Regions from separate parts of the Homo sapiens genome. Here region 2 is linked to region 1. Evidence: fine-mapped expression QTL. A gene starts in region 1. The other region holds a variant in brackets. All regions are shown on one strand. Distances are from middle to middle. Region 1 holds the start of ZNF345 (zinc finger protein 345). Region 2 has its middle 27 kb from the start of ZFP30.

What was found. PIP is the estimated chance that this variant, and not a neighbour inherited with it, causes the effect.
Region 2: its variant is the best candidate, but not a certain one, in a credible set for the expression of ZNF345 in visceral fat (GTEx, PIP 0.79).

The regions. Positions count from the first base shown.
Region 1 is chr19:36,848,556-36,853,939 of GRCh38, forward strand. It overlaps ZNF345 (zinc finger protein 345), which reads left to right and starts at 2,321. Exons shown (of 3, transcript NM_001242472.2): 1 at 2,321-2,413; 2 at 3,275-3,349. It also overlaps a transcript of ZNF790 not described here. RefSeq lists an enhancer at 1,844-2,083.
Region 2 is chr19:37,679,452-37,684,835 of GRCh38, forward strand. It overlaps the pseudogene ZNF781. Among named protein-coding and RNA genes, the nearest start is that of ZFP30, 27 kb to the left of the region's middle. The variant A/G (reference allele first, on the strand shown) is at 2,628.

The DNA.
Region 1 (5,384 bases):
GAGAACTAGAGCAACAGAGCCACATTAGGTATAGATCGCTTGCCTGTATAGTCCAAATTTTGTTGTTTTTGTTTTTTGGGTCTTTTTGTTTGTTTGTTTGTTGTATTTTGTTTTGTTTTAAGGAGCGGAGAGTTTAATAGGCAAGAAGGAAGGGAGAAGACAGAAGGAAGAAGTTCCCCCATACAGAGATGGGGGTTGGGGGGGTGGTGGCTCCAAAGCCGAAAGAGGAGGTCCCCTTGTTTTTTGGGGGTTTTTTGAGACGGAGTCTCACTCTGTCATCCAGGCTGGAGTGCAGTGGTGCGATCTCAGTTCACTGCAACCTCTGTCTGCCGGGTTCAAGCCATTCTCCTGCGTCAGCCTCCAAAGTAGCTGGGATTACAGGTGCACACCACCACGCCCAGCTAATTTTGTATTTTTAGTAGAGACGGGGTTTCACCATATTGGCCAGGCTGGTCTTGAACTCCTGGGCTCAAGTGATCCACCCACTTCAGTCTCCCAAAGTGCTGGGATTACAGGCGTGAGCCACCGCACTCATGCTTGGTTTTTTTGTTTTGTTTTGTTTGTAGAGAGTATGCTGTTCAGGCTGGTCTCAAACTCCTGAGCTCAAGTGATCCTCCTGCCTCAGCCTTCCAAAGTGCTGAGATCACAGGCATGAACCACCATGCCCGGCCCTTCCTGCCATTGTTAAAAGCTTCAGGATTATATTTTACATCAGCATTTCCTGTTGTCATACACTTCCTGCCATCATATTTCGGCAACCTCTACCACCTCCCAAAGTTTCTAGCTTAAAAAATTATTGATTTCCTCCTAGCTCCCCTTTCTGTCAGTTTTTTAATTTTATATTTGTTTTCAAATGAGTCCTCACATTGATTTTAAAAATTTAACAAGAGTATAGTGAAAAGGAAGTTCCCCTTTCACTATTTATCTTCCCCATATGCATCTATTATGACGGGTTTCTTTTTTAAACTACTTGGAGTACTCATAACTGATTTTGTACTCTAGTTCAGAAGAAATGTCTGAATGTTAAATGTTTACATAAAAAATGCTATTTTATTATATCAGTAATGGAGCTTCCCCCCTTTAAAACTGCTGCACCAGGAAGATACAACCTTGTTATCACAATTTAAAGAGAAAATGAGACTTGGAGGTTCAGATTCCTCCACAGTCATAGTATCAGCTACCCACGCAGTGACCCACATTCAGGTGATTACACACACTCATACACAGATCCATACACGATCTTGCCCCCCCCACCTCCACACACTCAATATGACCTCCCCACGCCCAAAGCTGCACACATCTTGACCTCACTTCTCTCACACACACACCAATCTGACCCGCACGCGGTTTCTTTCACTCAACTACCCAGACACCCCTCATCCCACCAGCACAAGCAGGCCCACCGCGGTCTCACACACACTCGAGCCTTCCTTTGCCCAGTCTCACATGCATGACTGGGATCGCGGATTTGTCCCCTTCCGACTCCCCATGCTGGTTCGGTCCCAGACGCTCAGGTGCCACATTGGGGTGCGCTCTCCCGGCTCCTCCACACGCTACGCAGCTGCCCGCCTCAAGAGCGTCTGCGTGCTTCCAGCGTTAAGTGGAATTCCAAGCAGCCTCCGGGGCACAGTTAGTCTGGTCACTGCGGCCAGACTGCCGCCTCAGGACCCAGAGAACGCAGCACACTTTAGTTGGGCCCATCTATCCCCGGCGAGGCTTGGACTACGTTTCCCAGGAGACCCTGCGGTCCAGTATGTCTCCCGAGGAGGGGCGGAAGCCCGGGAGCCGCCCTCTGAGGCTGGGCGGGGTGAAAGAAAGCTTGCCCCAGAGGACTTAAACAGGCAAGAAGGACTTGGTTAAAGACTATTGCAATAGTCAACTTCCAATACAACAGCAGCTGGAGATTTATAGCTAACGGGCTGGGTGAAGGAGTTAAAGGATGCTAAATTACTAAGAGGAAGTTAAGTATCAAGAGTGGGGGGATTGTTACTAAACTGGCTTAGCTGGATTCTTGCTGAAGTGCTGTTCGCAGGCTATGGAGGAGGCCTGGCCAAGCAAAAAGGGCTCAGAGGAGCCTGACTAAAGCTTGGTCTAGGGACTCCTTGTCAGGTGAGACTCCCGGAAGGCTCCGATGGGCAGCTCACCTCAAAGAGATAGTTTTGTTGGTGCCAGAGTCCGCGCCAGGGGAATCGGGATGGCTGGGCTGTAGCTTTCGGCAACCTGTCGCTTTCTGGACTACACTTCCCAGAAGCCTCTAGGCCCAGGGCACTCTCCCGCGATAACTAGATTGTCTCTTGAGGAGTGGGCGGGATCTTCCCGCGGATTTGGGCAAGCGGCCTTGGGGCTTTGTGAGATAGCTAGGGTCGACTTGTGTGGATTCTAGTAGAACGGAGCTGACCCTATCCGAACAGGCGTAAGTGAGGCGGCTCGGAGCCTGGCGCGACAGGAACTCCCGACCTGTGTGGGCTGCGTGGGGAACAGGCTAAGGAGCGATTGTGAGGAGTGTGTACGGTTGTGACTGGGGGCGTGTGTCTGTGCGACCGTGTATGGAACTGTGAGGGCGGGGAGGAGGACTTTTTGTTTATGTTTGTGCGGGTGTGAGTAGAGTTTAATTGTGACCGGGTTGGGCACTGTGTTTGCGAGTGTGAGGTTCCTGGACCGCGGTTGTGACTGTATGTCCCCTTGGGGTGTGTGTGTGTGTGTTTACTACCATTTGCCGAACTGTGTGTAGTATGCCTTAATTTTGAGGTTTGTGGCTGCTTCCGTGTGTGTGTGTGCGCGCGCGTTGGTGATATTGTTGATGGAGGGTGCGTGTGAATTTGTTGTCATTGTGACCCCAAGGTGTATGTCACTGGGAATTTGAGAGATGCCCACGGACTCTGTGGTTGTGTCCGTGTCTACCCCCGTGGTGTGTATGAGTGTGTGATTGTGTGTTGTGTTTAGGTTTGGGGTGCCTGTGACGTTTATGTCCCTGCGGTGTGAGTGAGTTTGTGTGACTATGTGTCCGTATAGCCAATGTAGGTATGGGGAGTCTTTGTCTTTGTGACTTCAGCCATTGGAGACCCCTGTGAGCTCAGGGACAGGTTCTGCCCAGAACGGCATTGACCCTACCGTTGTCTGTGATGCCCGGATTAAGCAGGATGCCCTAGACTTCTCTGACCTTCCTCTGTAGGTGATGGGCAGTAGGGGCTGAGCAAAGATAACTTCTGACATAGTCAAACCAACTCCCTCTCAGAAGAACCTGATGTTTCCTGACTGCTTTCTCCTTCCTCAGCCCTGCCCTGCTTGGATAGAGGCCTCCGAACAGGAGTAAAGAATGGCTGTTGAACATCCACAAGGCACCTGCAAGGTAGCTTGTCCTGTCCTCTTGTTTAAGAAAAATCCCTTTTTCTTTGTCAGGACATAGTTGCTTTCCTTCTCTTGAAAATTCTTGCCTATGAGATGACCTGATCCCTGGAGTTTCCATTTTGAGAAAATGTGGTGTCTTCAAACCCCACCTCCCACACCTGATTTTCCCTTACTGATTTGTCAGATGGTTTTAATTTTTCTTTTTCTTTTTTTTTTCTTTCTTTCTTTTTTTTTTTTTTTTTTTGAGACAGAATTACAGGCGTGAGCTGCTGTGCCCGGCCTTATCCTTCTACTCTTGATGGACATTTGTCTTGTAATTTTTGGCTACTACAGGCAGTGTGACTATGATCATTTTGTGCGCATATTTTGGTACACATTTGCTTGCATTTCTTTAGAATATATACCTAGTGATTAAATTGCTGATAGTGGCTGGATGCAGTGGCTCATGCCTGTAATCCCAGCACTTTGGGGGGCCAAGGCGGGCGGATCACGAGGTCAAGAGATCAAGATCATCCTGGCCAACATGAGGAAACCCCGTCTCTACTAAAAACACAAAAATTAGCTGGGCGTGGTGGCACGCGCCTGTAGTCCCAGCTACTTGGGAGGCTGAGGAGAATCGCTTGAACCCGGGAGGCAGAGGTTGCAGTGAGCCAAGATTGTGCCACTGCCCTCCAGCCTGGTGACAGAGTGAGACTCCATCTCAAAAAAAAAAAAAAAAAGTGCTAATAGGTAGGGTTTGTACATCTTCAGTTTTACCAAACATTGCCAAACTGTTCTCTAAAGATACTGTACTTATGCCAGCAGTTTACAAGAGTTTTCTTAGCTCCACATCCATGCTAGACATCATAAAACTCTTAAATTTTTGCCAATCTGGTGGGTGTCTAATGTTATATTTAATTTAAATTTCCTTTATTGCTAATAAAGTTGAGCATTGATTCTTGGCCATTTGAATGTCCCCTTTTTTGTTTTTTTTGTTTTTTTTTTTTGAGACTGAGTCTCTATTGCCCAGGCTGGAGTGCAGTTGAATGTCCCCTTTTATAAGGTGTTGTTCAAATATTTGACCAATTTTTAATTGGGTTTTTCTCTGATTTACGGCAGTTGTACATATGTGTATATATCTTCTGTAAATTAATCTTTTTTCAGTTGTATGTGTGATAAGTATTTTCACCTGCTCTGGTTTGACTTTTCACTCTATGTGGTGCCTTTTGACAAATAGAAGTTCTGGATTTCATTGTAATAAAATCATTTCCTATGGTTAGTCTTGTTTAAGAAATTTTTGTCTACCTCAAGATAATGAAGATTTTCTTTGGTCTTAAAGCCAAAAGCTTGCTTTCTTTCTTTCTTTTTTTTTTTTTTTTTTTTGACTCGAAGTTTCGCTCTTATTGCCCAGGCTGGAGTGCAATGGCATGATCTCGGCTCACCACAACCTCCGCCTCTTGGGTTCAAGTGATTGTCCTGCCTCAGCCTCCCAAGTAGCTGGGATTACAGGCATGCACCACCATACCTGGCTAATTTTGTATTTTTAGTAGAGACAGGGTTTCTCCATGTTGGTCAGGCTGGCCTGGAACTAGGTGATCTGCCTACCTCAGCCTTCCAAAGTGCTGGGATTACAGGCATAAGCCACCGCACCTGGCCAAGCCGAAAGCTTTCTAGGGTAGGCTTTAATGTTTAGGTCTTTACACCACCTGGAATTTTTATAGGGTAGGATTGAATTTCATTTTTCTCCCGAGTGTGTATCCAGTTATTATAGTATCATTTATTGGAAAGTTCATATTTTCTGCACTGATATGCAGTGCCATTTTAGTAAAAAAATCAAGTGAACATATATGTCTATGTCTATTTCTGGATTCTGTTCCACTGGTCTATTTGTCACTCCTCGCAGTAATAACATACTGTCTTACTCACTGTAACTTTGTATTTGGAGCAAGTACACTTACCTTCTTTTTCCTCAAGAGTGTCTTGGCTATTTGTGTTTCTTTGTATTTTCGTGTCAATTGTTGAATTAGCTTGGTTCCACCCAAACATCTCTTGGAATT
Region 2 (5,384 bases), 830 kb after region 1:
CTGGAAGCAGCCACCTGAAAGCTTGTACCTGGTTTCTCCTAACCTTTGTCCATGTACCTTTTCTTTCTGGTGACTTTAGTATGTATCCTTTTACTAGAATAAACCATAACTGTAAGAATAACAGCTTTTCTGCATCTTAGCAAATCTTTGAGGCTGATAGTCTCTAAAGTTCTTAGTACAGTTTCTCTTTTCACAAAATAAAATGGAACATTTGAGGGAATCTTCCCAAAATATCTTATTAAAACCTCTATCGTGTAATGAATATGTTAATTAGCTTGATAGTGGCAATGACTTCACAATGTACATTTCTATCAAAAGATTAAATATATAAATATATATTTAAATATATAAAATTTTTATGTGTCAATTATACCTCAGTAAAGATGGGCAGGGAGTACCTCCATCTCAGCGGTCCCCAACATTTTTGGCATCAGGGACTGGTTTCATGAAGACAATTTTTCCACAGAGTAGGGACAGGGTGGTTTCAGGATGATTCAAGTGCATTACATTTATTGTACACTTTATTTGTATTATTATTACATTGTAATATATAATGGAATAATTATACAACTCAGCATAATGTAGAATCAGTGGGAGCCCTGAGCTTGTTTTCTGCAACTAGACAGTCCCATCTGGGGGTGATGAGAGACAGTGACAGATCATCAGGCATTAGATTCTCATAAGGAGCCCACAACCTAGATCCCTCACATGCACAGCTCACAATAGGGTTCACGCTCCTATGAGAATCAAATGCCGCCGCTGATCTGACAGGAGGTGGAGCTCAGGCAGTAATGTGAGTGATAAGGAGCGGTTGTAAATACAGAGAAAGCTTTGCTCACTTGCTTGCCACTCACCTCCTGCTGTGTGGCCTGGTTCCTCACAGGCCAAGGACCAGTACTGGTCTGTGGCCCAGGTTTTGGGGACCCCCGCTCTATCTTAATAAAGAGGATACAAATAAATTTGAAGACTTCCTTGCAGAAGATGCAAATAAATTTGAAGAATTCTAAAACAACAACTACTAAAGAAATTTCAATAGAGAGGTAAGATGCTACTTGAAATCAAGGATTTGAATGGTAGAGTGTAGGGACCAGCCCCACAGGGTCGGTGGGTCTCTCCCTGTGCACGGCGACGAGAGAGTGTAGAAATAAAGACACACGATAAAGAGATAAAAGAAAAGGCAGCTGGGCCCGGGGGACCACTACCACCAATGCGCGGAGACCGGTAGTGGCCCCGAATGTCTGGCTGTGCTGTTATTTATTGGATACAAGGCAGAAGGGGCAGGGTAAAGAATGTGAGTCGCCTCCAATGATAGGTAAGGTCACGTGGGTCACGTGTCCACTGGACAGGGGGCCCTTCCCTGCCTGGCAGCCGAGGCAGAGAGGGAGAGGAGACAGAGAGAAAGACAGCTTACGCCATTATTTCTGCATATCAGGGACTATTAGTATTTTCACTAATTGACTACTGCTATCTAGAAGGCAGAGCCAGGTGTACAGGATGGAACATGAAGGCGGACTAGGAGCGTGACCACTGAAGCACAGCATCACAGGGAGACGGTCAGGCCTCTGGATAACTGCGGGCAAGCCTGACTGATGTCAGGCCCTCCACAAGAGGTGGAGGAGCACAGTCTTCTCTAAACTCCCCCGGGGAAAGGGAGCCTCCCTTTCCCGGTCTGCTAAGTAGCAGGTATTGTTCCTTGACACTTTTCGCTACTGCTAGACCACCGTCCGCTCGGCAACGGGCGTCTTCCCAGACACTGGCGTTACCGCTAGACCAAGGAACCCTTCTGCTGGCCCTGTCCGGGCATAACAGAAGGCTCGCACTCTTCTCTTCTGGTCACACCTCACTATGTCCCCTCAGCTTCTATCTCTGTATGGCCTGGTTTTTCCTAGGTTATGATTGTAGAGCGAGGATTATTATAATATTGGGATAAAGAGTAATTACTAGAAACTAATGATTAATGATATTCATATATCTCTAAGATCTATATCTGGTATAACTATTCTTGTTTTATATTTTATTATACTGGAACAGCTCGTGTCCTCGATCTCTTGCCTCGGCGCCTGGGTGGCTTGCCGCCCACAGTAGAGCAACAAAGAAATATCATTTCCCAGTTATGAGATTAGCAAAATGAGACAACTGGTTACACCCCATATGATTACATGAGAAATAATCTCAGGGCATCCTGCACATAAGATTATATTTAGAAAAATGTATGAGCATGTACAGGCATGCCTTAAACTCAGCAATTATACATCTTAGATTCTATTCAAATGAAGATTTAAATGTGTACAAAGAGGAAACAGTTTAACAAACCATTATTGTATTAATATAATGAAAAACAAGATAATCATAAAACTGATAGCTTTGCCAGGCACGGTGGCTCATGCCTGCAATCTCAGCACTTTGGGAGGCCGAGGCAGGCGGATCACCAAGTCAGGAAATCGAGACCATCCTGGCCAACATGGTGAAACCCCGTCTCTACTAAAAATACAAAAAAAATTAGCTGGGTGTGGTGGCGTGCACCTGTAGTCCCAGCTACTCAGGAGGCTGAGGCAGAAGAATCACTTGAACCCAGGAGGCGGAGGTTGCAGTGAGCCAAGATCATGCCACTGCACTCCAGCCTGGGC[A/G]ACAGAGTGAGGCCCCATCTCAAAAAAAAAAAAAAAAAAAAAAAGATAGCTTTGGGGTGGGGCGCAGTGACTCACACCTGTAATTCCAGCACTTTGGGAGGCCGAGGTGGGAGGATCACTCGAAACCAGGAATTCATGACCAGCCTGGGCAATGTAGAGAGACCCCCTGTCTCTAAAATATATATATATAAACTAGCCAGGTGTGGTAGCCCACACCTATAGTCCTAACTACTTGGGAGGCTGAAGCAGGAGAATCCTTGAGCCCAGGACATTGAGGCTGCAGTGAGTTATGATTGCACCATTGCACTCCAGCCTGGGAGACAAAGGGAGACCCCATCTCAAATCTCAAAAAAAAAAAAAAAAGTTTCTCCTTAATTTGTAACATGAAAAATCTTTTACCTCAATTTTCTAGTGAACAGAGAGCATTATTAAACGGAATAGTCATTGTCATCCTAGAGTTATCAAACAGAAGAGTGACTGTCAACCACTTTTGGCAGAAAACCCACACGTGTGTGGATATATATAAGATCTGGAAAGATTTTTCGTTGTTGTCGTACTATAGGTAATCTTTACTTTGTGATTTTCCACATTTTCTGAATTTTTGCATTGAGGATATACTATCTTTTACCATCATAAAAAACACCACTAAGCCCAGGCAACATGGTAAAACCCCATCTCTACAAACAATACAAAAATTAGCTGGGCATGATGGTGCGTGCCTATAGTCCCAGCTACACAGGAGGCTGTGGCGGGAGGATGGCTTAAGCCCAGCAGGTCAAGGCTGCAGTGAGCCATAATCGCACCACTGCATTCCAGCCTGGGAGACAGAGTGAGACCCCATTTCCAAAAAAGAAGAGTCAACAAGTTTTAAAAAATCAAGAAGTTCATAAAGTAAAAAAAGTTACAGTAAGCTAAAGTTAATTTATTATTGAAGAAAAAAATTTTCACATATTTAGTGTAGCCTAAGTATACAGTGTTTCTAGTCTATAGTGGGGTATGGTACTGTCCTAGCCTTCACATTCACTCACCATTCACTTACTGACTCACCTAGAGCAACTTTCAGTCCTGCAAGCTCCATTCATGGTAAATGCCCTGTACAGGTGTACCATTGTTTACTTTTTATACCTTTTTTTTTTTTTTTTTTTGAGATGGAGTCTTGCTCTTGTCACCCAGTCTGGAGTGCAATGGTACAATCTTGGCTCACTGCAACCTCCGCCACCCAGGTTCAAGCGATTCTCCTGCCTCAGCCTCCCGAGTAGCTGGGATTACAGGCACCTGCCACCACACCCAGCTAATTTTTGTATTTTTAGTAGAGACGGGGTTTCGCCACGTTGGCCAGGCTGGTCTCGAACTCCTGACCTCATGATCCACCTGCCTTGGCCTCCCAAAGTGTTGGGATTACAGGCGTGAGCCACTGCGCCTGGCCTATACCATATTTTTACTGTACCTTTTCTGTATTTAGATATATTTAGATACATAAAATCATTGTGTTGCAACTATCTACAGTATTCAGTACAGTAAAATTCTATACAGGCTGGTGGCCTAGGAGCTGCAGGCTATACTATATAGCCTGGGTGTGTAGTAGGCTATCCCATCTAGGTGTATGTAAGTCCACCCTCTGATGTTCACACAATGATGACATCACCTAACAACAACATTACCTAACAACAGAAGAATGTATCCCTGTTCTTAGGTGACGTCTGACTGTATATCTAACATTAAAAGTTTATTTACAAAAATAAACTTTATTTACAAAAAAACTTTATTTAAAAATTACATGGCATAAGGCCGGGTGGAGTGGCTCACGTCTGTAATCCCAGCACTTTGGGAGGCCAAGGTGGGCGGATCACCTGAGGTTAGGAGTTCAAGACCAGCCTGGCCAACATGGTGAAACCCTGTCTCTACTAAAAATAGAAAAAAAATTAGCCAGGCATGGTGATGGGTGCCTGTAATCCCAGCTATTCGGGCGGTTGAGGCTAGGGGAATTGCTTGAATCCAGCCAGTGGACGTTGCAGTGAGCCGAGATTGCACCACTGTACTCCAGCCTGGACGACAGAGAAAGACTTAGTCTCAAAAAAAAAAAAAATTACATGGCATAACGCTTACGACACAAAATCTCTTTATCTCCAGAGTTTCTATGTATTCAAGATGGTTTTCTCATAAAACAGCAGAGGTTACTGTGGTCAGAATGTCACCTTCCCATGAGCCCACAAGGAAAAGCATCTGTGTTTCGCTAGTTCCTGTCACACTTTAATCTATTTCTGTATAGATTATATGTCCCTTGCTAGATTGAGAGAAACTTAACTAGGGCTTTCTAATCACTTCATTTCTCCCAAGTATTAGCACAGAATCATTGATATTCCTGGCATTAATAAATGCTTAATATTTTACCTAAAAATTCTATACTTGGGAAGTTATCAATAAACGAAACCTAGAAAAGTGCAAAATTTAGTGAACACAAGAATATATCACAGAACAGTTACATGACAGATGACTGCACTACCATTAACAGCTATGACCAAACATTTTAAGTAAAAAGGAAAGATATACGTGACGAATTACTACGTAAGGGGGCAGGTCTTTAAAAGAACCTATAATTTGGCTGGGAGTGGTGGCTCATGCCTGTAATCCCAGCATTTTGGGAGGCTGAGGCGGGTGGATCACGAGATCAGGAGATCGAGACTATCCTGGCTAACACGGTGAAACCCCGTCTCTACTAAAAATAAAAAAAAATTAGCCGGGTGTGGTGGCGGGCAC